4 linked regions of the Homo sapiens genome follow. The protein of the gene in region 4 interacts with the protein of the main gene of each other region in a biochemical or structural test. Each region holds a gene or a part of one and is shown on either strand. Other genes may lie near its edges. The genes, in order: UBE2W, UBE2D2, UBE2K and UBA1.

Region 1 (6,174 bases), on a different chromosome or scaffold from region 4:
TCAAGCTATTCTCCTGCCTCAGCCTCCCAAGTAGCCGGGATTACAGGCGCCCACCACCACGCCGTTATTTTATTTTTAGTAGATACGGGGTTTCACCATGTTGGCCAGGCTGGTCTCAAGCTCCTGACGTGATCCACCTGCCCAAAGTACTGGGATTACAGGCGTAAGCCACTGTGCCTGGCCCATCTTTATGCATGACAGTACTTTTCACAGACATGTTTCTTTGATAATCAGAAACTATCTGCACCTCTTAAGGCTTGTCACATTTTATATGATATGCTTTTCTATTTATTATCTCCCTTATTACATATGCCCTTTGAAGATATATACCTCATCTGCCATCCTTCTTGGCATATGAAAGGCACACAATAATTATCTGCTTAATGCTGGTTTTTAAACTCTATGTCAGGTTTACCTTTATGATTTTATGGTTCCTGAGATGTATTTAGTTTAAAACAATTAATTTGTGACAAGCAATTTGCCTCAGAGATAAAGATATGAGAAACACCTATAAAAAAAGCCAAAACCAATGAAGAATGATTAATGATTTATTTAAAAGTAGTTTTCTCAAACTCTCTGGGATAGAAAGAGCAGGGTCCTGTTATACATTTTACTCAGGTGGTGGTTCTGGATATATGTTTCAAAATAGCTAGCACCTAAGTTTCTTTGAGAAAGCTAGGATAAAAATACAAGCATAACCAAGTTAATTCAATACACACTTATTAAATGCCTATGTGCTACAGGTACTGTATACTAGGTACTGTGTGCTACGTGCTGGGGACACAAACACAATTGCAACACTGTCCCTACTGTTAAAAAGTTCAGGATAGATGACTGGTAGGGAGAGAAGAAAGGACAAGGATGATAACCTTTCAGCTACCTTTGAACTAGACCTTTCAGGTAGAAACGCAGATCATGAACATTCTAGGAGGGAAGAACATTAGCAGACGGCAGTGGAAGCTTGCATTGCTACTGCTTATGAAACAAGGTTTGTGGACAGCTGAAGAGCAGCCTAGGGACACCAAGGCCAGGTAGTGAAAGGCCCTAATGGTAAGGAGACTGGAGAGAAGGTAGAAATCTCAGAGACATTTTAAAGTTACACTCAACAGGACTTGAAAAATGCAAGGAGAGGACTACTGAGTATCATTGCTTGATTAAGTTGGATGGGAATGTCATTAAATTATAACAGGATAAAAGAAATATGTTTTCATTGAGGTATGGAAACATAAAATTTTAATGTTGAATTGGCTATCTGCAGGATACAGCCATCTATATTAGGATCTTGTCTAATGACATATATTCACCCACATTAAGTCCCTGAAGGCCAGATACAGACATGAGAAGATATTTCCTACCTTAGTTGATAAACTTTCCTTATTATTTCCATAATCCACTTAACTGTAAAGGGCGTAGGGATTCCCACTTATGTATTTTGCATTATGCAGGCAAACATTAAAAATAAATCTTACAGGCAACTAAAAAAATGGTTGAAAGGGGCTCCCAACAGGACAGATAACCACAGTGGCTTTGAGCTTTGTTGTCCAAGTACACAAAACTCTTAGCTGTCTCACTTGCTTCTTCAATTTAGCTTATGTTTAATTTTGTTACGTGTTATGTTAGTGTGAAAATGAGTAAGAAATATAGGGAGGACATAAACAGAGTCACTTATCCAGGGTAGCTTAAACTAATGGAGAAAAGTCAAATCCTACTATGGAAAGTAGAAATTAAGGATTATAATAAAGGAAAAGGGCATCATCAAAGTACAAAAGATGGTTCATATATTTATCTAACCATCTACTAACATAGTTGTGTAGGACGGCAGGAACAGCTTGAGACATGATCGTTTTTATGGCAGAATGGCTGCCTCAATGAGGACTAAGGTGCTCCTGGGGCAAGCAGATCCCCTGCAGAAAAGCTTAGAATTACCAGCAGAGCATATTTAATTCCTCCTGTCAGGAATAACAGATGCTGAGATAGCCCCTTCTTGTGGTTATTTCTTTCCTCTTCTTGCAGCTTCAAGAGTCACTCATTTAAGTCATTAGTTGATCTGTTTGTATACTCCAGAAAGCATCCAGAAGTTCTTAGAGTATGCCCTTAATTGTACAACTTGAAGTTCAGGAACATCGGACTCACGATAACTCTAAGCAAGTGCCTGGGTCTCCATTTCCATCTTCACTGAAAACACTCAGTCTTTAGTTGGGACTTATTAAAACACTAAAACTAGCTACATATTACATAAAGGTGATGTGTTAAATAGATGGTTTAAGTGACTATCTTCATTCTGTTGCACTCATTTTGGAAATGGACATGTTCCTGTTTCTATAATCCTTTAAAATTCAGTCTTTTGTGAAGAGAAACTACTGTACAAATACTTTTACGTCATAAACCAAAAAGAGGTCTGGTATCTATCCCATTTAGTATTCAAGTCTACAGAAAAAATCCAATAACAACTGCTTTATTATTAAAAGTTATGAAATTCCATAAAGCAAAGTAATCTGCATTCAACTAACAAGTCTGATACATGTATTAAAAAATATATAACATAGATTTGTCTGTTTTAACATTTATATTCTATTTAAAAAGTAGTGACTTTACATATTTTGCAACTTGAGTTTATAAAATATATACATCCACCCTATTCAAATCCTCAAGCATGAGCTTTCATTCCTATTAATAAAATGCACACTCTGTAGTTCTGAATAATAAAAGGAAAATGGCACCAACTAAAACAAACAAATTCATTTTGACCTGAACATGCATTTAGTTTTTGGCTACTAATCAACCCAATAATCCATTTTACCTTGAACCTGACCACCAATTTGCCTTTACATAAACAATCTGTGGTTAACTATGAAAAGATGCATTTTCATGGTATCTGACACAATTTACCAAGTTCCTTATGGTAGATTTCAGGCTTTAAATTGTAAGTTTCAGGCTTCAAAAGAGGCAGGATTATTAAATCTTTCCATACACCAGAAAATCTGACAAGTGATGTCATTTTGAAATCATGCTTTTGCCTTTGAGAAAACAACTTAGAATTGTTGTAGGACCAATGAGAAAACAACTTAGAATCGTTGTAGGACCATCCTTTTCTCAAAACCCAGAGAGTGTATGTGCCAAGGACTAGAACAAGAATTGGATCTCTCCTTTTCCCAGTCAACTCCTCACTCACCATATTAAAACTGGAGTTCTTGAGGTATGTTAAGATAGATCAGCTTCTATTCAGGCATTCCTTCCACATACTCAAAATACCCTCAGATATTTTATTAACAAAAAATTTTTCATAAAAAAATAGTCATTTAATCATTCTAGAGACTCATCACAAAATACAAGTCACAATATTAACATATGAAAATTAAAATTACAATTAACATCTCACCAGGATCAAAGAACCCTAACTTCAACTTTCAGGATAGAGAGCTAAGTTTCAAGTACATGTCTAGATTCTATGTGCCTCTAATGATAATGATGTACATAAACCTGTCTTAAATCGGCAAACAGACGAGGCATGGTGGCTTGCACCTGTAATCCCAGCATTTTGGGAGGCTGAGGCAGGAGGAATGCTTGAGCCCAGGAATTCAAGATCAGCCTGGGCAACATGGTGAGACCTCGTGTCTTTAAAAAAAAAAAAAAAAAAAAAAAAAAAAAAAAAAATTCTATCCATCCAGGCATGGTGGCACACACCTGTAGACTCAGCTACCCGGGAGGCAGGAGGATTGCTTGAGCCAAGGTGGTCAAGGCTGCAATGACTGTTCCACTGCACACTCCAGCCTGGGCAACAGAGGAAGACCGTCTCAAAAAACAAAAAACAACCCACACACAATTTATGTTGAGAAAGCAAGTCTCCCACAAATTATTTTTAAAAAATGATTCCAGGCTGGGTGTGGTGGGTCATGCCTGTAATCGCAGCACTTTGGGAGGCTGAGGTGGGCAGATCACTTGAAGTCAGGAGTTCAACACCAGCCTGGCCAACACGGTGAAACCTTGTCTCTACTAAAAATTAGTCAGGTGTGGCAGCACATGCCTGTAATCCCAGCTACTCAAGAGGCTGAGGCAGGAGAATCGCTTAGACCCAGGAGGTGGAGATTGAAATGAGCCAAGATCGTGCACTGCACTAAAGCCCGGGTGACAGAGCAAGACTCCGTCTCAAAAATAAATAAATAAATAAATAATAAAAATAATCATTCCACATCTCAAAATGACTTAGAAATTTAAATGGAAAAAATAAATAATTTGCTTGGACAATAATTTGGCTTTGGGAGAGTCCTCATCCGAAAATAACAAAATTTCCTTAATATTAGTACTAAAGAACTAATTACAGCTAACAGCTCATTTACCAAGTAGTCAATTATTCAACAAATTTAGCCATCTACTGACAAACTGAAATTAGTATCAGAAACTCCATGTATTTTATTTGTAGGAGAGCATTTTAAATTTTTCAAAAATTCATGGCATAATTTTAATAATCGTCCTTCTGTAGAATCCCTAACCTCAGAAAAAAAAAAGAGAGAATAAATTAGAAGTGAGAAAAGGAAACTGCGGAAGACTGACACATTGGACATCAGTGGGAAGAGGCAGAAAAATAGGAAGAAAAATAAAGGACAGATTTAAAACAATTTAAAAAGGACTACAAAGAGGATTGGGGCCAGTTGGTGCAGATTAAAAGACACCTTCTTCACAGACCTCAATCATGCACAGGCAGTAACGGCATTACTATAACACAGAACAGTATAGTAGCTGATTCTGATAATGAATCCTCAGAAAAGAAGAATATGGTTAAGCTTCAGTTCTTTTTGAAAAGCAATTTACATACACAATTACAAATAATTGTAAATTTTAAGCATTCAGCTAAGATATGTACAAAAAAATTAATGAAAGTGAGATCAAGAAATATAAGCAGCAGTAACCATAAAGGCTTAGAACTAGTGACACTGAATTCTTTATTTAAAAAAATTTTTGTAACACACAGTACCTCCTCTTCTCTTCTATTTTTAGGAAGAAGTTATAACAAGTTTTAAATATCTCAATTCTGAAAAACAATAGGCTTTTAAAAAATAAGACTTGATTACCAGAAACAAGTAATATGTAGTTACATAACCATTTTCATATCACTACTCATTTCCATTATTTACCAATTCATCTTTGATGCAACTTGGAAACAATTAAGCAGTCACTAGACACCTGTTTTAGAATCTGAAGAAATTATTATCCACCACAGGAATCTAATGATATATATATTTGCATATATTTAAAATTTCATGAGGGAAAAGGTAATAAACTATTCTAGTTATTTTATACCAAATATTGATATTCCTAGTCAAAACAACAAGGAATTAAGATCTTTCTCCAGGTGAACTGCTGACTATATAGAAGCTATTTCCAGCACTTTCTTCTGGGGATTAAAAATGATTTATTTCCCTGCTGGCTAAAATGATAAATTATATATTACAAGTAAGTCCTTCAGAAGTGAATATTAATTCCTTAAGAGAACCATAAAATGTATTTTTAAAAAATTCTCTTAAAAACTGAAAACAATCCTTCTCTCTAAACCTATGGCATTAATCCCTACTTGACCAAAGAAAAAAAAAAAAAAGAAGGGCATCATGTTCATGATCTAAGCATGCATAAATAAGGAAGCAAATGTATCACTGTCTTAATAGAATTTGGCAAACCAGAAGAATGGCCTAAAAATAAATAAATAAATAAATAAAAGAAGAAGAGTGTACCTTATCTTCTAAGTATGAAAGTCTAATTCTGTAGGCCTATGTCGCAAATAGTGCCCCACGAGGAAATGCAGGGAGGAGGCAAGTAGCATATTCCTATATACATTTTCTTGATATTCTGGTTGTCTTTCAACAATGCATTACAGAGAAATATTCTTTTTATTATTACAAGCCATTAATTGCTCTCTGTAGAGCAATGACTCAGATAAATGCCTTATGACTTTTAATAATGTAACTAACATATAAATTAAATCTAAGTGCAAGGAGTTTTCAATGATTCCTAAATTCAAGAGAGTGTTGTTAGCCTGATTATGAATTTTAAATGTCTGTGCTCCTATATTTTAGGATATTTCATCTTATTTTCTACTCTTTAAACCATAAGATGTACCGAAATTATTTCATTTTCCTCTACTTTCCTCTGTGTCATTTTAGTTTACTTTATGGTATTTAT
Region 2 (7,030 bases), on a different chromosome or scaffold from region 4:
AGTCTCTACTAAAAATACAAAAAATTAGTCGGTCGTGGTGGTGCATGCCTGTAATCCCAGCTACTTGGGAGGCGGAGACAGGAGAATTGCTTGAACCTGGGACGCAGAGGTTTCAGTGAGCCGAGATTGCGCCACTGCACTCCAGCCCGGGCAACAGAGTGAGACTCCATCTCAAAAAAACAAACAAACAAACAAAACAGCAGGGGACAGTGAGAATATTTGATAGTATGAGACTGAATCCCCAGAGACCTACACTTGAATGCACAGATCTCAAGAGAGTCACATTTACCAACTGTTCAAAAGAAAAGAAAGCTGGGTGCGGTAGCTCGCAGCTGCAATCACAGGGCTTTGGGAGGCAGAGGCAGGAGGATCACTTGAGCCCAGGATTTCAAGACCAGCGTAGGAAACATGGTGAGACCCTATTGCTACAATTTTTTTTTTTAAATTAGCCAGGGGTGTAGGGGCATGTACCCATAGTCCCAGCTACTCAGGAGGCTGAGGTGGGAGGATCCCTTGAGCCCAGGAGTTTGAGGCTTCAGTGAGCTGCAATCGCGCCACTGCACTCTAGCCTGGGCAACAGAGTGAGCCCCTGCCTTTAAAGAAGACCAGAGGAGAGGAAGACGAGGGAGAAGGGAGGGAGAGAGGGAGGGGAGGAGGAGGGGGAAAGGAAGGGAGGGAAGAGAGAAGGAAACAGATATATGGCCATTAAATCTTCAGCTTATTTGTTTCTTTCTTTTCTTTTTTTTTTTTTTTTTTTTTTTGAGACAGAGTCTTGCTCTGTCACACAGGCTGGAGTGCAGTGGCGTGATCTTGGCTCACTGCAAGCTCCACCTCCCGGGTTCACGCCATTCTCCTGCCTCAGCCTCCTGAATAGCTGGGACTACAGGCACCTGCCACCAAGCCCGGCTAATTTTTTGTATTTTTAGTAGAGACGGGGTTTCACCATGTTAGCCAGGATGGTCTCAATCTCCTGACCTCGTGATCCGCCCGCCTCGGCCTCCCAAAGTGTTGGGATTACAGGCGTGAGCCACCGGGCCCGGCTGCTTACTTCTTTCAGGATGTACATTTCTTCCTGCTTACCAGATCTTTGCAGGAAAGTGAAAAAAAATTTACTAGTACATTAAAATCTGGATGTTTTAAAATAAAGCACAGATCTCTACTTTATTTTTATACTAAATATCAACATTAAAATCTGGATGTTTTAAAATAAAGCACAAGTCTCCACTTTATTTTTACACTAAATATCAATAACATGTGGTACTGAGGGATTTGGGTACCAGGATAGTCAAAAGGAGCTCAAAAGTTTCAAAAGGCCAACAGTTTCTCTCTTCCTTCTTCTAAGATTAAATTCTGACTCCTTATAACAAAAATAAAATGACAAAAGGACATTTAGCTATCCAATCATACTTGATGTACTCTTATGTGGGGTTCATCAGAAAGATCTGATCAATACTTGTTTTTTTTTTTTTTTTAGAGACTGGGTCTCAACCTGTCATCCAAGCTAGAGTATAGTGGCCAAATCATAGCTCACTGCAGCCTCAAACTTCTGGGCTCAGGTGTTCCTCCTGCCTCAGCCTTGTGAGTAGGTGGGACTACAGCCATGAGCCACCACTCCCAGCTAATTTTTAGTTTTAAAGATGGGGTCTTGCTTTGTTGCCCAGGCTGGCATAAAACTCCTGGCCTCAAGTGATCCTCCAGTCTCAGTCTCCCCAGTAGCTGGGATTACAGGCATGAGCCACTGTGCCTGGCTCTTCTTCACTGTAGTTTTGATTTGTATTTCCCTAATGACAAATGATGTTGAGCATCTTTTCGTGTGCTTACTAGCCATCTTATCTGGAGAAATGTCTACTCGGATCCTTTGACTATTTTTTAATTGGTTATTTATTTTTATACTGAGTTATAGGAGTTTTTAAACAGCTGGGTGGGGTGGCTCATGCCTGTAATTCCAGCGCTTTGGGAGGTAGAGGTGGGCGGATCACTTGAGGTCAGGAGTTCAAGACCAGCCTGGCCAACATGGTGAAACCCATCTCTACCAAAAATACGAAAATTAGCTGGGCGGCGGGGCACGTGCCTATAATCAGCTACTCGGGAGGCTGAGGCAGGAGAACTGCTTGAACCCACGAGGCGAAGGTTATAGTGAGCCAAGACCGCACCACTGCACTCCAGCCTGGGTGACAAAAGCGAGATTCCGTCTCAAAAAAAAAAAAAAAAAGTTTTAAAAATATACTGGATATATGTCCCTTATGAGATATATGACTTGCAACAATTTCTTCCATTCTATATGTTTTATCACTTTCGTGATGGCATCATTTGCAGCCTGTATATATTTAATTTTGATGAAGTCTAATAATATCTATTTTTTTCTCTTACTGATTAGCTTTGGGAGAGTTTGTTTGTTTTTTTGAGACGGAGTTTCAGTCTTGTTGCCCAGGCTGGAGTGCAATGGCGTGATCTCGGCTCACTGCAGCCTCTGCCTCCCGGGTTCAAGCGATTCTCCTGCCTCAGCCTCCCAAATAGATGGGATTACAGCTCCCACCACCACACCTGGCTAATTTCTTGTATTTTTATTTTTAGTAGACGGGGTTTCACCAGAGTTCAAGGCCAGACTGGTCTTGATTGAATTCCTGGCCTCAGGTAATCCACCTGCCTCGGCCTCCCAAAGTGCTGGCATTACAGGCGTACAGACGTGAGACACCACACCCAGCCTTTTTTTTTTTTTTTTTTTTTTTCGGAGACAGAGTCTCACTCTGTCACCCAGGCTGGAGTGTAGTGGCGGGATCTCGGCTCACCACAACCTCCGCCTCCCAGTTCCAACGATTCTCCTGCCTCAGCCTCCTAGGTAGCTGGGATTATAGGCAGGCGCCACCGCGCCCAGCTAATTTTTGTATTTTTAGTAGAGACAGGGTTTCACCATGTTGGCCAGGCTGGTCTTGAACTCCTGGCCTCCCAAAGTGCTAGGATTACAGACGTGAACCATCGCACTCGGCTGTGGGAGAGTTTTATTTAACTCTCCAAAGGGAACAATTTTTCAACCTGAGAAAGAAATGTATAGTGCTAACTATGGCAGAAGCAAAGCAAAGACAAATTACTTTAGCATGCTAAAGAAAACTTCAAAATTGAAATCAAATCCCCTGACTCCAACCACTTTTAATTAAAGATTTTCAGCCATTCTTAACTTGGAGGAATTTACCTAAAAGCACTTTTCCAACTGAATAGAAAGAGTACACTGATGTATGTGGCCCATATGATACAGTGGAAGGACAAACTAGAATCAGAAAACCTGAGAGTGAGTTCACATGGAGAATCTCCATGAGATTCTCATGGGACTTTTTTCTAAAACAATTTAAAATTTCTACTCCACTCACCTAAATGAGTTGTTGTAAGGCTTAAATGAGACAACGTGTGTAACAGCACTTACTAAATTATTTTGTATAGTTTAAGTACTTAGCCTGCCTTGTTTGGTACCAAATACTATAGTTACTCACGCTAGGTAAGTCAGAATATAATAATGTAAATGAGTTTTTTCATGACATGTACTTAGACTCATAATTTATAATATTTATCTATTTGTAAAGTAATCCTTGTGAAAGGGCCTTGCTTTGATTCTTCAGGATTTAGCAGACCAGACACATTCTTTTTTTCCGTTTTTTGTTGTTGTTGTTGTTGTTTTTGTTTTGAGAGAGTCTCGCTCCCGTTGCCCAGGCTGGAGTGCAGTTGTGCAACCTTGGCTCACTACAGCCTCAACTGCCTGGACTCAAGCGATCCTCCCACCTTAAACTCCTGAGTAGCTGGGGCTACAGGCATGCACCACCAGGCCAGGCTAATTTTTGTATTTTTTTGTAGAGAGAGGGTTTCACCATGTTGCCCAGGCTGGTCTCGCACTCCTGGGCTCAAGTGATCTGCCTGCCTCAGCCTCCCAAAGCACTGAGATTACAGGTGTGAGCCACTGGGCTGGGCCCAGACACAACATTATTAAGAAAAATCAGGAAAAAACAATTTGAGGCCAGGCGCAGTAGCTCACGCCTGTAATTCCAGAACTTTGGGAGGCCAAGGCAGGTGGATCACCTAAGGTCAGGAATTCAAGACCAGCCTCGCCAACATGGCGAAACCCCGTCTCTACTAAAAATACAAAAACTAGCCAGGTGTGGTGGCAGGTGCCTGTAATCCAAGCTACTTGGAAGGCTGAGGCAGGAGAATGGCATGAACCCAGGAGGCGGAGCTTGCAGTGAGCCGAGGTCACGCCACTGCACTCCAGCACGGGCAACAGAGTGAGACTCCATCTTAAAAAACAAAACAAACAAACAAAAAAATATTAAACATAAGCTAATTTAACCATGTACTCATTTTGGTCTGAATCTACATATTTACACAAGTGTTTGTAAGTATGCATACTTTAAAATATTTGTTAAATGTTACAAATTTTTTTTTCTTTTTTTTTTTTTTGAGAGTAAGTCTCACTCTGTCACGCAGGCTGGAGTGCAGTGGCACAATCTCAGCTCACTGCAACCTCTGCCTCCTGGATTCAAGCAGTTGTCTGCCTCAACCTCCCAAGTAGGTGGGATTACAGGCGCCTGTCACCATGCCTGGCTAAATTTTTTTCTATTTTTAGTAGAGGCGGGGTTTCACCATCTTGGCCAGGATGGTCTCAAACTCTGACCTCGTGATCCGCCCGCCTCGGCCTTTCAAAGTGCTGGGATTAGAGGCATGAGCCATGACGCCCCGTCCTGTTTTTATTTTTTGAGACAGCGTCTCACTCTGTCGCCCAAGCTGGAGTGCAGTGGCATGGTCCTGGCTCACTGTAAACTCTGCTACCCAGGCTCAGGCTAAAGCAAACCTCCCACCTTAGCCTTCCAAGTAGCTCGGACTACCAGCATGCACCAACATACCCGGCTAATTTTTTTGTGTGTTTTTTGTAGAGACAGGGCTTCACCATGTTGACCAAGCTGGTCTTGAACTCCTGGGCTCAATTGATTCACCTGCCTCGGTCTCCTAAAGTGCTGGGATTAGGGACATGAGCCATCACACCCAACCAAATGTTACAGTTTTTTGTGAATTAGTTTTACATCACATAGCATAGTCTCATTCAAATATCCCCTCTTTAAAAAAAGTTAAAAGACACTATATGGGAAAAAATTATGTTGAAATGAAGTGGAACAAAGAGGAAATTATCATCTAATGTATGCATTAAGATCATCTTTTTAGACAAAATTAAGCAGATAAATTGGACATTAAAAATAAAGACCTGCTTTTGGCCAGGTGTGGTGGTTCATGCCTATAATCCCAGCACTTTGGGAGGCCAAAGCGGGCGGATCACCTGAGGCCAGGAGTTTGAGACCAGCCTGGCCAACATGGCGAAACCACGAATCTACTAAAAATACAAAAATTAATCAGGCGTGGTGGCATGCACCTGTAATCCCAGATACTCGAGAGGCTGAGGCACGAGAATCACTTGAACCCAGGAAGCAGAGGCTGCAGTGAGCTGAGATCACGCCACTGCACTCCAGCCCGGGCTTGACAGAGCGAGACCCTGTCTCAAGAAAAAAATAAATAAAGACCTGATTTCGCAAGTATGAGTCAGTAGAAAGTCAGACACAGACACACATACTATCATCCTTAGTATTATCTTACTCAAGAATAATAGCTAGTTGTAGGTAAAAGCTTAAATATTTCACTCCAGGAAAATACCCAGAAGGGATGAAGGTAAGGTAGGAGAGGACTAGAACAACTACATAGCCAATACCTGGCAGAAGATTCAAAATGTAATGAACAACACAGATGATAATGGGATGAACATAGAGTTGCTCCCTTCATGGGCCACTAAGGGTTAAACACTGCCTCTTCCCTATACCATAATTGTTTCTTCACACAAAATAACCACTGTTATGCTATTACTCCATTATTCCTTTTAAATACTTACTATCATCTCCAACAGGACCTGCTGAACACTGTGCTGGAGGGTCCCGTGCCAGATCATTCAATTCCTACAGAAAAAAGAAAGAAAAGAAATATATTCAACATAAATGTACCTTTTATCCATTACTAAAGTTTATATTGTTACCAATATTCTCTGTCCTGCTGGTGAAACTCTCTTAAGAGCATTCCTTCAGAGTAAGAGATGAGTAGATTGGTGAATCTTTAAGGTATTTTGGATTCTTCAAGGCAATGTGTATTTTTTTAAAGTGGGTCATTTTTGCTTTGTTCAGAGCTTAGCAAATAAATACAATCAGGAAGGTAAAACATGTGTCATGTATTATGGGCCGGGCGTGATGGCTCACACCTGTAATCCCAGCACTTTGGGAGGCTGAGGCGGGCAGATCACTTGAGGTCAGGAGTTCGAGACCAGCCTGGCCAACAAGCCTGTCTCTACTGAAGATAGAAAAAATTAGCTGGGCATGGTGATACATGCCTGTCATACCAGCTACTCAGGAGGCTGAGGCAGGAGAATCCCTTGAACCAGGGAGGCGGAGGTTGCAGTAAGCCAAGATTGCACCACTGCACTCCAGCCTGGGTGATAGAGCGAGACTCCATTTCAAAAAAACAAACAAACAAAAAACATGTATTATGTATTAAAGAGCCAAAAATACTGTTTTTTTTGTTTGTTTGTTGTTTGTTTTTTGAGACGGAGTCTTGCTCTGTCGCCCAGGCTGGAGTGCAGTGGCGCAATCTCAGCTGACTGCAAGCTCCGCCTCCAGGGTTCACGCCATTCTCCTGCCTCAGCCTCCCGAGTAGCTGGGACTACAGGTGCCCGACCCAAACGCCCGGCTAACTTTTTGTATTTTTAGTAGAGACAGGGTTTCACCGTGTTAGCCAGGATGATCTCAATCTCCTGACCTGGTGATCCGCCCACCTTGGCCTCCCAAAGTGCTGGGATTACAGGCGTGAGCCACCGCGCCTGGCCAAAATTGTTTTAATGTAAACATTTCATTTATTATTTTTCAAAAAAAAAATTTAAGGCCAATTTTTGTACCTCAAAACTATTAGGTTACACTTGGGACAAGCTCCTAAAGTCATAAATGTTCCAAAATTATAC
Region 3 (7,030 bases), on a different chromosome or scaffold from region 4:
ATTGTTATGAATGGATGGATGACTATGAATCTGAGGAAAAAATAAAAGTGGTACTATTTTCTTCAAGCCCTTTTTGTTTCGAATCCTTCTCTTTTTTTTTTTTTCCTGAGACAGGGTCGTTCTGTTGCCCAGGCTGGAGTGCAGAGGCACAATCTTGGCTCACTGCAACCTCCACCTTTCAGGTTCCAGCAAATCTTGTGCCTCAGTCTCCTGAGTAACTGGGTTTACAGGTGCCCACCACAATGCCCAGCTAATTTTTGTATTTTTAGTAGAGATGAGGTTTCACCATGTTGGTCAGGCTGGGCTTGAACTTCTGGCCTCAGGTGATCCGCCTGCCTCAGCCTCCCAAAGTGCTGGGATTACAGGCATAAGCCATTGCGCCTGGCCTCTCTTCTGGCTACTTTTTATTTGAGGCGGATTCTCACTCTGTTGCCCAGACTGGAGTGCAATGGTGCGATCTCGGCTGACTGCAACCTTCACCTCCCAGTTCCAGCAATTCTCCTACCTCAGCCTCCTGGGTAGCTGGGACTACAGGTGCGCGCCACCATGCCTGGCTAATTTTTTAATTTTTTTTTAAGTAGAGACAGGGTCTCAGCATGCTGGCTAAGCTGGTCTCAAACTCCTGACCTCAAATAATCTACCCGCCTCAGCCTCCCAAAGTAATGGGATTACAGGCATGAGCCGTTATGCCTCGTGGCTAGTTCTTTTTAATAGAATCCCATAGTGATTCATGCATGAGTTGAACTAAATGCCTGAATCACAGAACATATAACAATAATGAAATTTAAAGAAAAGTAGTGGAAAGAAAAAAAAAACTGACAGGTAAGAGAAGGGTACCTGAAGAAATTTTGTGACAATAACTGTCTATACCCAGAATTAGAAATGCCAGCTTCAAATATAGTTATAATAAATTTGGCTTCAGCACTACATAGGCTTTTCTTTTTCCTTCCTAAGAATTTTTTTTTTCTGATTAAACTCCAGATTAAACCATCTCTATAACCCATCATACAAAGTTCTTTGTTAATGGCCAAAATAATCTCTTAGGAGCAGTGTGAGGGCCCACAGATATTATATAAATAATGCTGGACTCGAGAGTCTCTAAAATCTTATTTCTATCCCTTATGTTACACGCTCTGACAACTTTCAATATATGACCACTTAGCATTAATCATAGCATTATTTGATCAGGGTAATACAACTAAGGAATCCTTATGATAACTATATTATTCATATTATAATAGTTTTTACTTTAAAACATTAACTTCTTGAAGAATAGCTTTTAATATTAAAAATTAACAATCTTTAAATTTAACTTAACCCAAAGAGGAGATGAGGAAGGAATGAGAATTTTTAAGCTGTCAACAATGATTCCATAAACCTAAAAGAAATTTTAGGAAGAAAAGCTCAAGAACTAAACTGTTCCTTTGTCATTGAATTATTAAGGCAAAAGAAGTGAAGAAAATTGAGTTAAGTAACATCCACAATATGGCATTTTCCCGTGAGTACTCTACTTCACAATCTGATTCTTTAAATACTACAAAAACAGCTGCCTCATTACTTAATAATGGTTATAAATTGCTTAACATTCCACATGTAAACTTTTGCTTTAGCATTTAAGTTTAGATTTTTAAAAACTCAAAAAACTGCAACATCCTTGCAATAAACATTTAACCTATCGTCACATTTAAAAGAAAAAGCATTAAAGTTTATGTCCTTGAATGGTGTTTTCCTTAACAAAATGAACTTCTCTCAATAGTTTTATATAAAATAACAGAATTCAAGTTACTCTACCTCAAATATATAAAAAGCATATTAAATCTAATCTTATCAAAATATTCATTTAGCAGCAGCAGCAGCAGAAATAAGCACTTTTTTTTTTTGAGATGCAGTCTCCCTCTGTCGCCCAGGCTGGAGTGCAGTGGTGCGATCTCAGCTCACTGCAACCTCCGTCTCATGGATTCAAGGGATTCTCCTGCCTCAGCCTCCTGAGTAGCTGGGATTATAGGCGCACGCCACCACACCCAGCTAATTTTTGTATTTTTAGTAGAGATGGAGTTTCACCACGTTGGTCAGGCTGGTCTTGAACTCCTGACCTCGTGATCCACCTGCTTCAGCCTCCCAAAGTGCTGGGATTACAGGCATCAGCCACCCCGCCCAGGCAGATATAAGCACTTTTAAATGACCAAACTTTTGGTCCCATTCTCGGTATCGGGAAAAAGAAAAGAAAAAAAATGACCAAACTTGTTTCTAACCAATAAAGAATATATCTTTTTTTTTTTTTTTTTTTTGAGACGGAGTCTTGCTCTGTTGCCCAGGCTGGAGTGCAATGGCACAATCTCGGCTCACTGCAAGCTCCGCCTCCCGGGTTCACACCATTCTCCTGCCTCAGCCTCCCAAGTAGCTGGGACTACAGGCGCCCACCATCACGCCTGGCTAATTTTTTTGTATTTTTAGTAGAGACGGGGTTTCATCGTGTTAGCCAGGACGGTCTCGATCTCCTGACCTCGTGATCTGCCCGCCTCAGCCTCCCAAAGTGCTGGGATTACAGGTGTGAGCCACCGCACTCGGCCATAAGAATATATCTTAATGTATCTTTTTTTTTTTCTTTTTGGGACAGAGTCTCGCTGTCGCCCAGGCTGGAGTGCAGCAGCGCGATCTGGGCTCACTGAAGGCTCCGCCTCCCGGGGTTCACGCCATTCTCCTGCCTCAGCCTCCCGAGTAGCTGGGACCACAGGCGCCCACCACCTCGCCCGGCTAATTAGTGTATCTTAATATATCTTAATGTATATAAGTATACATTATCCAATTAAAAAAATTAATCTACCTATTAAATATTGCTTCTATCTAATTTAGCTCAGGAAGTGCCTTGTTTATAAAAATCAATGAAAAAATTTAAAACTTTGCTGACAGACCTCTAGAATAATGTCACTGCCCTACTATCTTCCAAAAATACTTCAAAACAACCTAAAAAAAAATTCAAGAATAACTATAAGGTCTGACTTCAAGAAGAAGCTAGTATATTATTATATAAAAACATCTGCTATTAGGACAAGCATCTGATTTTTTAAAGATAACTAAAGGTCTCCTCTACATTTAATGATTGCAAAAAGGACTAAATGAAACAGCATCCATGAAAACTGCCAGACCAAGCCAAGCAGATAGGAAGCACTCGATAAACAGCATAAAAAATTAAATATCTAGAAATGGCTCGTATGAACTATAAAACAAAAAATAAAATTTTATCACTTAAGAATTGGTACAAGGTTGGGCACAATGGCTCATGCCTAGAATCCCAAGACTTTGGGACACCAAGGCAAGAGGATTGTTTTAGGCCAGGGGTTTGAGACCAGCCTCGGTAACTTGGCAAGATGCCATCTCTCCAATAAAGAAAGAAAAAAATGGGCTGGGTGCGGTGCGGTGGCTCACGCCTGTAATCTCAGCACTTTGGGAGGCTGAGGTGGGCAGATCACAAGGTCAGGAGTTCAAGACAAGCCTGGCCAATATGGTGAAACCCCGCCTCTACTAAAAATACAAAAATTAGCCGGGCATGGTGGCGGGCGCCTGTAGTACCAGCTACTCGGGAGGCTGAGGCAGGAGAATTGCTTGAACCCGGGAGGCGGAGGTTGCAGTGAGCCAAGATCGTACCACTGCACTCCAGCGTGAGAGACAGAGCAAGACTCTGTCTCCCAAAAAAAAAAAAAAAAAAAATGAATAAACAGAATTGGTATAATATGCTAAAGACATTCTAGGGTCTTAAAAAATCTGGATTAAAAACAAGAAAATATTCAAGAATATTAGATTTTTAAAAAGTGTTTTGGGTAGCCGGGCACGGTGGCTCACTCCTGTAACCCCAGCACTTTGGGAGGCCGAGGCTGGCAGATCACGAGGTCAGGAGATCGAGACCATTCTGGCTAACACGGTGAAACACCGTCTCTACTAAAAAAATACAAAAAAAATTAGCCGGGCATGGTGGCGGGTGCCCGTAGTCCCAGCTGCTCGGAAGGCTGAGGCAGGAGAATGGCGTGAATCCAGGAGGCGAAGCTTGCAGTGAGCCGAGATCGCGCCACTGCACTCCAGGCTGGGCAACAGAGCGAGACTCCATCTCAAAAAAAAAAAAGTGTTTTGGGTAACTGTTCATTACAGAATTATAGAACCACTCGAAAGTATTTAGCTGGTGGCCGGGATTGGTGGCTCACGCCTGTAATCCTAACACTTTGGGAGGCCAAGACAGGCGGATCACCTAAGGTCAGAAGTTCAAGACCAGCCTGGCCGTTATTGTGAAACCCTGTCTCTACTAAAAATACAAAAATTAGCCGGCATGGTGGTGCGCCTGTAATCCCAGCTACTCAGGAGGCTAAGGCAGGAGAATCACTTGATTCTGGGAGATGGAGGATGCAGTGAGCCAAGATTTCACCACCGCACTCCAGGCTGGGTGACAGAGAGACTCAGTCTCAAAAAACAAACAATCAAAAAATGAACAACAAAAAACACACACAAAGTATTTAACTGGATATGGTGGCATGCACCTGTAGTACTAGCTACTGAGGAAGCTGGAGGATTACCTGAGCCTAGGAATTCAAATTTATAATGAGCTATGACCATGCCACTGCTCTCCAGCTTGGGTAACAGTAAAACTTTGCATATAAAAAAATAGATAAAACAAAACAGACATCACCACCACTTCCAATATTAAGTCAATTCTGATTTACATAAAGTGATTAAAAGCACAGGCTTTGAAGACAAAGGCTATCAGTTGTGCTACTTAGATGGTTGACCTTAAACAAGTTACTTCTCTTAACTTGTTTCTTCATCTATGAAACAGCAATCGTTGTATTTACCTAGTAAGATTTGCTGAAAGGATTAAATGAGAAAATACATGTAAAGACTGTATAATTAGGGTTACCATATATTGTTATATGTTTTCTAATAAACAAATATTTGAATAGTTATTAATGCAAGAGCCTTGGTTATATGCTATATAATCTAAATTTACAGTAATATTAATTAATGAAGACTCACCTAATAAGAAAGTAAAATGCTATAAGGTTTATTTCTGTATCTTACCACCCGATTCCATGGTCTAAAGTAGCTACAGACTTAATTTGTGAACACCAAGTTCAGCAAAGCCACCTCCTTTCTATGGCTTGAAATAATCACTAAAAGCTTTCCTGAATAAAGAAAATAAACATTTGGACTACAGCCTGTATGAAGACATGAGTGAATGAAATGCTGAATGACAGAAAGAAGAACTTTAAAAACAAAAGCAACATTTTACCAATGAGATATTTAAGGCAAGGTCTGTTTTAGATACCATATGAAGGGTAACTGAGTGTCTACAGTCCATATGATTTAGAGGTTTACCATGCCAGATCTTTTATTCTATTAAATTCTAACCTATAATACCTGTAACAAAGCTCTGCTAAAACTGTTTTATGGAAAGAAAAAAATTAGCTAAAATTCAGTAAGAAATACCAGTCTATATTCAGTATCTAAATTTAGTATTTTTTAAATTGCTGTTTATCTAAACCAAATGAAGTTACCCTCCATATAATTTATAGATGTTTAAGATTATTCTGATTAAATGTTTCAGACAAGTTCTAATACGCACAATATTTTGATACAGAAAAAAGTACTTGCCTTCATATGGTGTGTCTGGAGGTCCTGCTATTTCTCCTCTTAATTCTGTAAAATTCTCATCTACAAGATCTACTTTAATTTGATTTTTGCTCGTCTTAAAAATAAACAGAAAATAAATGTTAGTTATGTCAGCAAGAAAAACGCCTAAAGTATTACCTATAAAAAATCTTGAAACCCCCTCTTTCATAAGCTTGATTATCTGCTCTAGTAAAATAAGTCTCGGCTTTTCTAGGACTTAATTATCCAGTTTTAAGAATATTTAAAACAAACTAATAAATTCTAACTTCATTGTTTTAAACGAAATAACACCACTATGAACAACAATACAATGGCTTCTTGACTTTCTAGGAATGTTATTAGGGAAAAATAGTATAAAAGCTATTTTATGTTTGCCAATTCCATGTATATCAGGCCCAAAGCGATAAATCTAATCATCCACAGATGAACACTAAGATATTATATTCTGCACTATACCCCCACGATACATGGGTTCTGCTTAAACAGAAAATTCAGGGTCATTAAAAGCCATTTAGGCCATAAACTCTCACTTGAACTAACCATAACAACTTTAAATGTTTAGTTTAACTGACTGAAATAGTACACTATCCACCAGAATGGTGAAAGCTCTAGCTACCTAACAGATTCTCCTTTCCATGAAAAATTCCAGAGGACTAAATGCCTCAAAAGAAAAGGCCTTCTTCAATTTGTTTTTCTGCTTAGTTTATTAAAACGGCAACTACCTACTTCAAAAAACCAGATTTCTACTTTAAATTTATCTACATTGACTTATTTTGCACTTTAAACTACTCCAAGTACTTTCCTATCTATAGCATTACTGAGTCTCTTAACCTTATGACAGTCCATTCTCAGAGCCATGATAACCTTAAATGATTCAGAAAACCATCCAGTGGGACTCACATTAACATTCGTAAGTGCCTGCCAGCAAATGGGCTCTCCACTTATATTCTCAAACCTATGTTAAAAATACAGTAAATCCTCTCGATTTTTTAAACCAAAATCCCTAAAGAACAGGTTACATCTTCCTTTTTTTGAGACGGAGTCTTGCTCTTGCTGCCCAGGCTGGAGTGCGATGGCACGATCTCGGCTCACTGCAACCTCCACCTCCTGGGTTCAAGTGACTCTCCTGCTTCAGCCTCCTGAGTAGCTGGGATTACAGGCACCCACTACCATGCTCAGCTAATTTTTGTTATTTTTAGTCAAGACGGGGTTTCGCCACGTTGGCCAGGCTTGTCTCGAACTCCTGACCTCGCGATACGCCCGCCTTGGCCTCCCAAAGTGCTGGGATTATAGACGTGAGGCACCGTGCCCGGCCTATATCTTCATTTTTTTTGGTTAGAATTCCATATTGTTACCTGATTGACACAACATATCT
Region 4 (7,030 bases):
GGAGAGATTTTTGAGAACAGGACCTGAGAGTGAAGGCCTCTCTGACAATCTTCACGCTTCACCTAGGCCCCAGATGTGCCCCCAATTCACTATCTTGGGTTGGGCACTCGATGCGGACTGGAGCCAATCACAAAATACCTCAACTGTAGGGTCCCACAGGTTGAACCAGAGATCTGGCTGAGAGAACAATTACCAATCACTGGGTAGCCATTTTGTGCTAAACAGCCCATCATTTAACAAACTCTCATGGATTACCAGGCATTGTACTAACTTCATTTTAATAAATACCAGTTAATCCTCCCCAAACCCCCCATGAGATAGATCACTATTATTTCTACTTCACAGACGAGGAAACTGAGGTACAGAGAGAAGTTACGTGATTTGCCTAAGTTCAAGTAGAGTTTGGATTTGAACCCATATTGATTCCTGTGCTCTTAACTCCAGAATTTCTCCCCCATAATCCCTACAGCCCTGACTGGGAATCAGGTATGACGCAGCCCACACCACAGTCAAGGGCAATAGCAACCAAGCCTCTTTGCTCAAAGGAACTAGGGTGAGGAAAAAGCAGGTCAGGATCAATCACTCTTCTCAGATCCCCATGCCTCAGGGCACCTGCCACAGCTGGACTCCACAGTGGGAGGACCCACACTGCAGGCTCCCATTTCAGGGAAACACATTCTGCCAAATGGACCCAACAACTGGGCATTACCTGGTCAGGAGGGAAGTTGTGCAGCAGCTGCCGGATGTTGTTCGAGTACTGGGTGTGCCAGTGGTGGCAGGCCCAGGTCACGCAGTCAGCCCAGGTCTGTGGTCGCTGCAGCACCAGGCTGCGCTGCACAGCCTCCAGCACCTCCAAGGGCTGAGTGCCTGCCAGCCGCAGTGTTCGCTCCACAAACTTGGGGTCTCTATCAGGAATCGAAGAGGACAGAGGATAGGATTACATGTCAGCCTCAAGAGTGGGCTCCAGAGCAATCTTACTTTCTCCATGGAAAACTAGTCCCGACCCCAAACAACATGAGGCCCCAACAGCCACTCATTCATGTGAAAAGTGTGCCTGGTGCCAAGTGTTACTGTCATGAGGAAAGCAGCCGGGATGCCTTGGCTGGTGGACAGGGACAGGGCGAGAGGGCACTCGAGTTACTCACGTGAGGTACTGGTTGACATTTTCTGCTGGCTGCTTGAAGAGGCCTTCAAACTCATCCCGAGCCCACTGCAGACAGAGCAAACAGATTACATGTGGCCACAGTTGACAAAATGGGTTTCCGCAGGCATTATTAGAAGGACCATCAGTGAATAAAGCAAGTACAAGGCGCACAGCTACTCTGGAAGTGGGGAAGCCCTCTAGCCTTCCCCATTCCCCCACCTCAATTGAAAAACCAGGCCAGGCACAGTAGCTCACACCTGTAATCCCAGCACTTTGGGAGGCTAAGGCAGATGGATCACCTGAGGTCAAGGGTTCGAGACCAGCCTGACCAACATGGTGAAACCCCATCTCTACTAAAAATACAAAAAGTAGCTGGGCGTGGTGGCAGATGCCTGTAATCCCAGCTACTCAGGAGGCTGAGGCAGGAAATCTCTTGAACCCGGGAGGCGGAGGTTGCAGTGAGCCGAGATCATGCCATTGCACTCCAGCCTGGGTGACAGAGGAAGACTGTCTCAAAAAAAGAAAAATCAATGAAGTTGATTTGGGCAGTGGTTACAATAGTGCTGTGTATGTGGAAAACTGTTTTGTTTTGTTGTTTGAGACAAAGTCTCACACTGTCACCCGAGCTGGAGTGCAGCGATGCAATCACGGCTCACAGCAGCCTTGACCTCCCAGGTTGAAACGATCCTCCCACCTCAGCCTCCCGAATAGCTGGGACAGCAGGCACATGCCACCACACCCGGCTAATTTTTAAGATTTGTTGTAGAGACAGGGTCTTGCTATGTTGCCTAGGCTGGTCTTGAACTCCTGGGCTCAAACAAACCTCACTCCTTGGCCTCCTGAGTGCTGAGATTATAGGTGTCAGCCGCCATGCCCAGCCTAAAAATGTATTAAGATCTGAGTGCCAGGCGAGGTGGCTCACGCCTGTATTCCCAGCACTTTGGAAGGCTGAGGCAGGAGAATCGCTTGAACCTGGGAGGCGGAGGCTGCAGTGAGCCGAGACTGCGCCACTGCACTCCAACCTGGGCAACATGAGCAAAACTCCACCTCAAAAAAAAAAAAAAAAAAATCTGTGTACCTTATTCTAGATATGTTATGCCTCCATAAAAAATAAAAACTTCAATTAGGTATATCTTACCACAGTTTTTTAAAACACAAAAAACTCAGACCAAACCAACAATGATCCCTATCCAGGCCCTGAGGACTTGGCAGAAAACAAGACAGAGGCCGGACACAGAGGCTTACACATGTAATCCCAGCACTTTTGGAGGCTGAGGCAGGTGGATCACTTGAGCCCAGGAGTTTACAACCAGCCTGGTCAACGTAACGGGCACGCGTGCGTGCGCACACACACACACACACACGTACACACACTTACACGTACACACAGACACTTACACACACACACACACACACGTACAGACACTTCCCAGGAGTTGGAAGGTTGCAGTGAGCTATGATTGTGCCAATACACTTCAGCCTGAATGGCAGAATGAGACCTGTCTCAAAAAATAAAATAGCAAACAAGACAGAACTTCTGGCCTCTGAGAATTCCTAGGACAGTTCGCAGTCATTAGCGAGGTGGTTTGGAGTGTACAGATGTTAGAAATTCAGGTTCAGATTCCAGCTATGCCACGTATTACCTAGTTTTGTGACTTCAGGCACACAGGATAACATCTTTACCTCTGTGCCTTGTCTCTAAAACAGGTGTTACAACAGTGATACCTACCTTCATGGGGTTGCTAGGAAGAAATGAGCAAATACATATATATTTAAAGCTTGGTTAAAACAGTGCCAGGCACACAGTAAATGCCAAGTGGTTCACAATAGTCCTGTGAGGTAGATGCTGTCATTCCCATTTTACAGAACAGGAATCTGCGGCACAGAGAGGTTAAGTTCAAGGTTACACATGACCTAGCAAGACTGTGGTTGGTGCACAAATACAAACATACCCACTCTGGAACTGCAGTGTCAGAAGGGAGAAAGTGACAGATGGAACTGTTTTTTTTTTCCCTTCCCTATTTTGTTCCCACCCTCATACTCCTACTATTCTAAATGGTTTGGCCTCAAACACTGCACTAAGAATTATTCTGACAGCACAATGGTAATCCCTAGGTTCTGTTTCTTGGCCCAGGTGGTGGTCACCTGTGTGTTCACTTTGTAAAACTTCAGCTAGATCAAGCTTGTCTAACCTGTGGCCCATATGCAGCCCAGGATGACTTTGAATGCTGCCCAACACAAATTTGTAAATTTTCTTAAGACATTATGAGATTTATGCACGGATCTTTTTTTCTTTTATTTTTTCAGCTCATCAGCTATCGTTAGTATTAGTATATTTTATGTGTGGCCCGAGACAATTCTTCTTCCAATGTGGCCCAGGGAAGCCAAATGATTGGACACCCCGAGCTAGATAATATATGCACTGTTCTGTAGATAAATGCACCATACACACAGAATCATCCTGACAAACCAGCTGTTAAACTCATTTTGAGTAACAGCTGGGGAAAACCTGAATATGGACCATTAGAGACAAATAAATAACTAGAAGAGATGGTAAGAATGATTGTTAATTTTGCTGAGCATGAAAATGATGTTTCTGTTAGACAGAAGTAGTTCTCAACTGGGAGTGATGTGGCACCCCTGGGGACATCTGGCAATGTCTGGAGACATTTTGAGATGTCATGATGGAGGGAGAGTGCTATTGGCATCTAGTGGGCAGAAGTCAGGAATGCTGAGAAACATCCTACAGTGCACAGGGCATCCCCTCTCCCATGACAAATAAATAACCAGCCCCAAATGTCAGTAGTGCTGAAGCTAAGAAACCCTGTTCTACAGCAACATATCCTCACTTGGCAGAGGCACTGAAATAGTAGGGAGTAAAGGGCTGTGATGTCTGTGACACATTTAAGCACAAAGAAGAAAAATCTACATAAATCTAAGAAGAAAATGTGGCAAAACATTAAGAATTGTTAAATTTAGGTGAGGAATGGTATTTGAGTATTCATCATAATATTCTTAATATTTGTCTATGTGTTGAAAAAAAAATCAAAATAAAAGTGAAAAAAGAATGAGTCATTCTAGAAACCTAGGCTGCCTGGTGGGAAGTGAGGGAGGGAGGTTTGGAGAAAAGGCACATCTTACACTTAGGCATGCAACATCTGAAGGCAAGGCAAGGGCCTGGGGGCGGAGAGGCAGCAGCCTGGCCAGATGCCTGGCCTCTTTCCCTTCTCCCACAGCTTATCACCTGCAGGGTGTGCTCGATGGCATTAGGGAAGTTCTTCAGGGTACAGATGGGGATGGACTTCTCAGGTGGGTCCTGGCTGGAACTGTACGACTCTGTCAGGAAGGGGATCACCACCTGCACATTGCCTTTGGTGCCCAGTGTGCCTGACTCCAGCAGTGGCTTCCGGTAGTAGACACAGCGGCGGTCCATGTACATGCCTGTGGGGAGCACAAAGCGAGAGCTAGGAAAGAAACATCAGGAGAGGACAGAAAGACGGACACCCCTCTTGGTATATACACACCGAAACACACACAACTTTGCCCGTGACCACCTCACCCGCCTCCAAACTCACGGGCATCCACGTTGTCCAGGGCATTGGCCACGCCATCTAGGTTTTGGAAAAAATCGTCATCATAGATGCGCTCCGTGTCAGGACCCACACGGTTCTGGTGGCTTGTCACCCGGATATGTGGATTCATTTGGCGCACAGCTGCAGCAGCCGTGTCAGACTTTAACTTCTAAAGGGTTAAGAAAGTGCAGTTCCAGGGTGGGGATGGGGGAACAAAGCTCACTTATTTGTGCATTCACCCAACAAACATCTTTATTTTTTTTGAGACAGGGTCTCTCTCCATCACACAGGCTGGAATGCAGTGGCATGATCACGGCTCACTGCAGCCTCAACTTCCCAGGCTCCAGCGATCCTCCCACCTCAGCCTCCCGAGTAGCTGGGACCACAGGTGTGTGCCACCATGCGTGGCTAATTTTTGTATTTTTGGTAGAGACAGGGTTTTGTCATGCTGCCCAGGCTGGTCTTGAACTCCTGAGCTCAAAGACCTCGGCCCCACAAAGAGCTGGGATTACAGGCGTGAGCCACCGCACCTGGCCCAAACACCTATAAAGGGCTGTCTGCCTGAGACTGATTTACTTAATGCTGGGGAAGACCCAGGCCCTGAGTTAGGAGGCTAGCAGGAGAGACGGTCTGTGACAATGCCACATGGCCAGGATGATGATGCATGTGGCAGGGGCTCAGCATAAAGGGAAGCTGTGGACAGGAACAGACTGGAGACAATGGGCCAGACATCTGTTCTTTCGTCTAACACCTGCTATTTTTTCAGGTAACAGCACCCAGGATTGATGCAGACTCCCCCAACCACCACCAGGATGCTGGCACACAGACAAGCAGGATCCTTTCAAAGCCCAAATTGGGCCACGTCCCTCCTCTGCTCAGAATCCTCCCCTGGATCCCACCTCCACTTACCGTAAAATGAGTTGGCTCCCTGACCCCTCCCACCTCAGGATCTTTGCGCAGGCTCTTCCACAGCAGAGGGCACTCTAGTCCCTCATATCCTTGAGGTCTTTGCAGAACTCAGGCCTTCCTTAACCATTGTCATCAATACTACAAACCATTCTCCCTGACACCCCGACTTCCCTTGTCTGGTTTTAGTTGTTTCCTTTGAGGAGCACTCATCACCAACATTAACTATATACCTCACGATCGTATTGTGTCTATTGTTTGCTGTCCGTTCCCCTCTCCCTCCAGGAATCTTGTTTTATTCCTTGGTATATCCCCAATACCTAAAACAGTACTAAAACTATCTGGTGAATAAATGAAATAAATGAAAGGGGGAATAAATCCTGGGTAAGCAAAAACGACACTGCTCCTTACAGAAAGCTTCTCAGAGAACCCTGCATAACCAACCCAGTTTCCATATGTGCAGAGAAGTGTAAGCCTAGGAGACTGAAACTACAACCCTTGGAAAGGCCTGCTTCCAAGGTCGGCTCCTTGGCTGGTGTCTGGGAACTTGGAATTCAGGAAGGTTCCCACCGCTCCCTACCTGGTATCAGTGGTTCACTGTGCCTAAACCGTTCATGCAAACAATACAGTTTACGCTGAACACCTTTCCTTCTGGGAGTCTGGAAATTTTGTTATGTGCCAGGAAGGGGGCGCCTACATGACCAGCCCCAAGTAAAAGAGGTGGTGCTGAGTCTAACAAGCTTCCCTGGTTGGCAACATTTCATGTCTTGTTACACCTTGTTGCTGTTATTTCTGTAGTTACTGTTGCTACTGGGGAAATAAAGGCCGCCTTGTTTAACTCCCGCTGGGAGAAGACTCCTAGAAACTTGCACCAGCCTTTTCCCTTTGCTGATTTTGGTCTGTATCCTTTTGCTGTAATAAATTGTAGCCACAAGCACGACTATATGCTGAGTCCTGTAAGTACTCTAGGTGAATTGAGCTTGAGAGTAGTTTTGAGGACCCCAGACACACTGTCCCAACCAGCACTAAAAAGAGGTTAAGGCAAAAAAAAAAAAAAAAAAAAAAAAAAAACAGAAGCTGAGGGAAAGAAAGGCCAAAAAGAAGGGCTTCTGGCAGAGGCAGAAAGATCTCTGACAGAAAGAATGGGAACAAGAAAAAGGAGGGGTGAGGTGTGGTGGCTCACGCCTGTAATACCAACACTTTGGGAGGCTGAAGCAGGCAGATCACCTGAGGTCGGGAATTCGAGACCAGCCTGACCAACATGGAGAAACCCTGTCTCTACTTAAAATGCAAAATCAGCCGGGCGTGGTGGCGCATGCCTGTAGTCCCAGCTACTCAGGAGGCTGAGGCAGGAGAATCGCTTGAACCCAGGAGGCAGAGGTTGTGGTGGGCCAGAGATCACGCCACT

The links.
Region 1: of the proteins of UBA1 (region 4) and UBE2W, one has a biochemical effect on the other in vitro, tested with the Homo sapiens proteins (5 studies listed by BioGRID, with this or other methods).
Region 2: of the proteins of UBA1 (region 4) and UBE2D2, one has a biochemical effect on the other in vitro, tested with the Homo sapiens proteins (18 studies listed by BioGRID, with this or other methods).
Region 3: of the proteins of UBA1 (region 4) and UBE2K, one has a biochemical effect on the other in vitro, tested with the Homo sapiens proteins (9 studies listed by BioGRID, with this or other methods).

The regions. Positions count from the first base shown.
Region 1 is NC_000008.11:73,785,689-73,791,862, forward strand, and holds the end of UBE2W (ubiquitin-conjugating enzyme E2 W), read right to left. Parts: 3' UTR 531-6,174; downstream 1-530. UniProt on the Homo sapiens protein: Accepts ubiquitin from the E1 complex and catalyzes its covalent attachment to other proteins.
Region 2 is NC_000005.10:139,599,323-139,606,352, reverse strand, and holds part of UBE2D2 (ubiquitin-conjugating enzyme E2 D2), read right to left. Parts: intron 5,982-7,030; coding exon 5,918-5,981; intron 1-5,917.
Region 3 is NC_000004.12:39,736,121-39,743,150, reverse strand, and holds part of UBE2K (ubiquitin-conjugating enzyme E2 K), read right to left. Parts: intron 5,732-7,030; coding exon 5,638-5,731; intron 1-5,637. UniProt on the Homo sapiens protein: Accepts ubiquitin from the E1 complex and catalyzes its covalent attachment to other proteins. In vitro, in the presence or in the absence of BRCA1-BARD1 E3 ubiquitin-protein ligase complex, catalyzes the synthesis of 'Lys-48'-linked polyubiquitin chains.
Region 4 is NC_000023.11:47,203,803-47,210,832, reverse strand, and holds part of UBA1 (ubiquitin-like modifier-activating enzyme 1), read right to left. Parts: intron 6,566-7,030; exon of another isoform or gene 4,972-6,565; intron 4,886-4,971; coding exon 4,720-4,885; intron 4,586-4,719; coding exon 4,389-4,585; intron 1,211-4,388; coding exon 1,146-1,210; intron 906-1,145; coding exon 710-905; intron 1-709. UniProt on the Homo sapiens protein: Catalyzes the first step in ubiquitin conjugation to mark cellular proteins for degradation through the ubiquitin-proteasome system.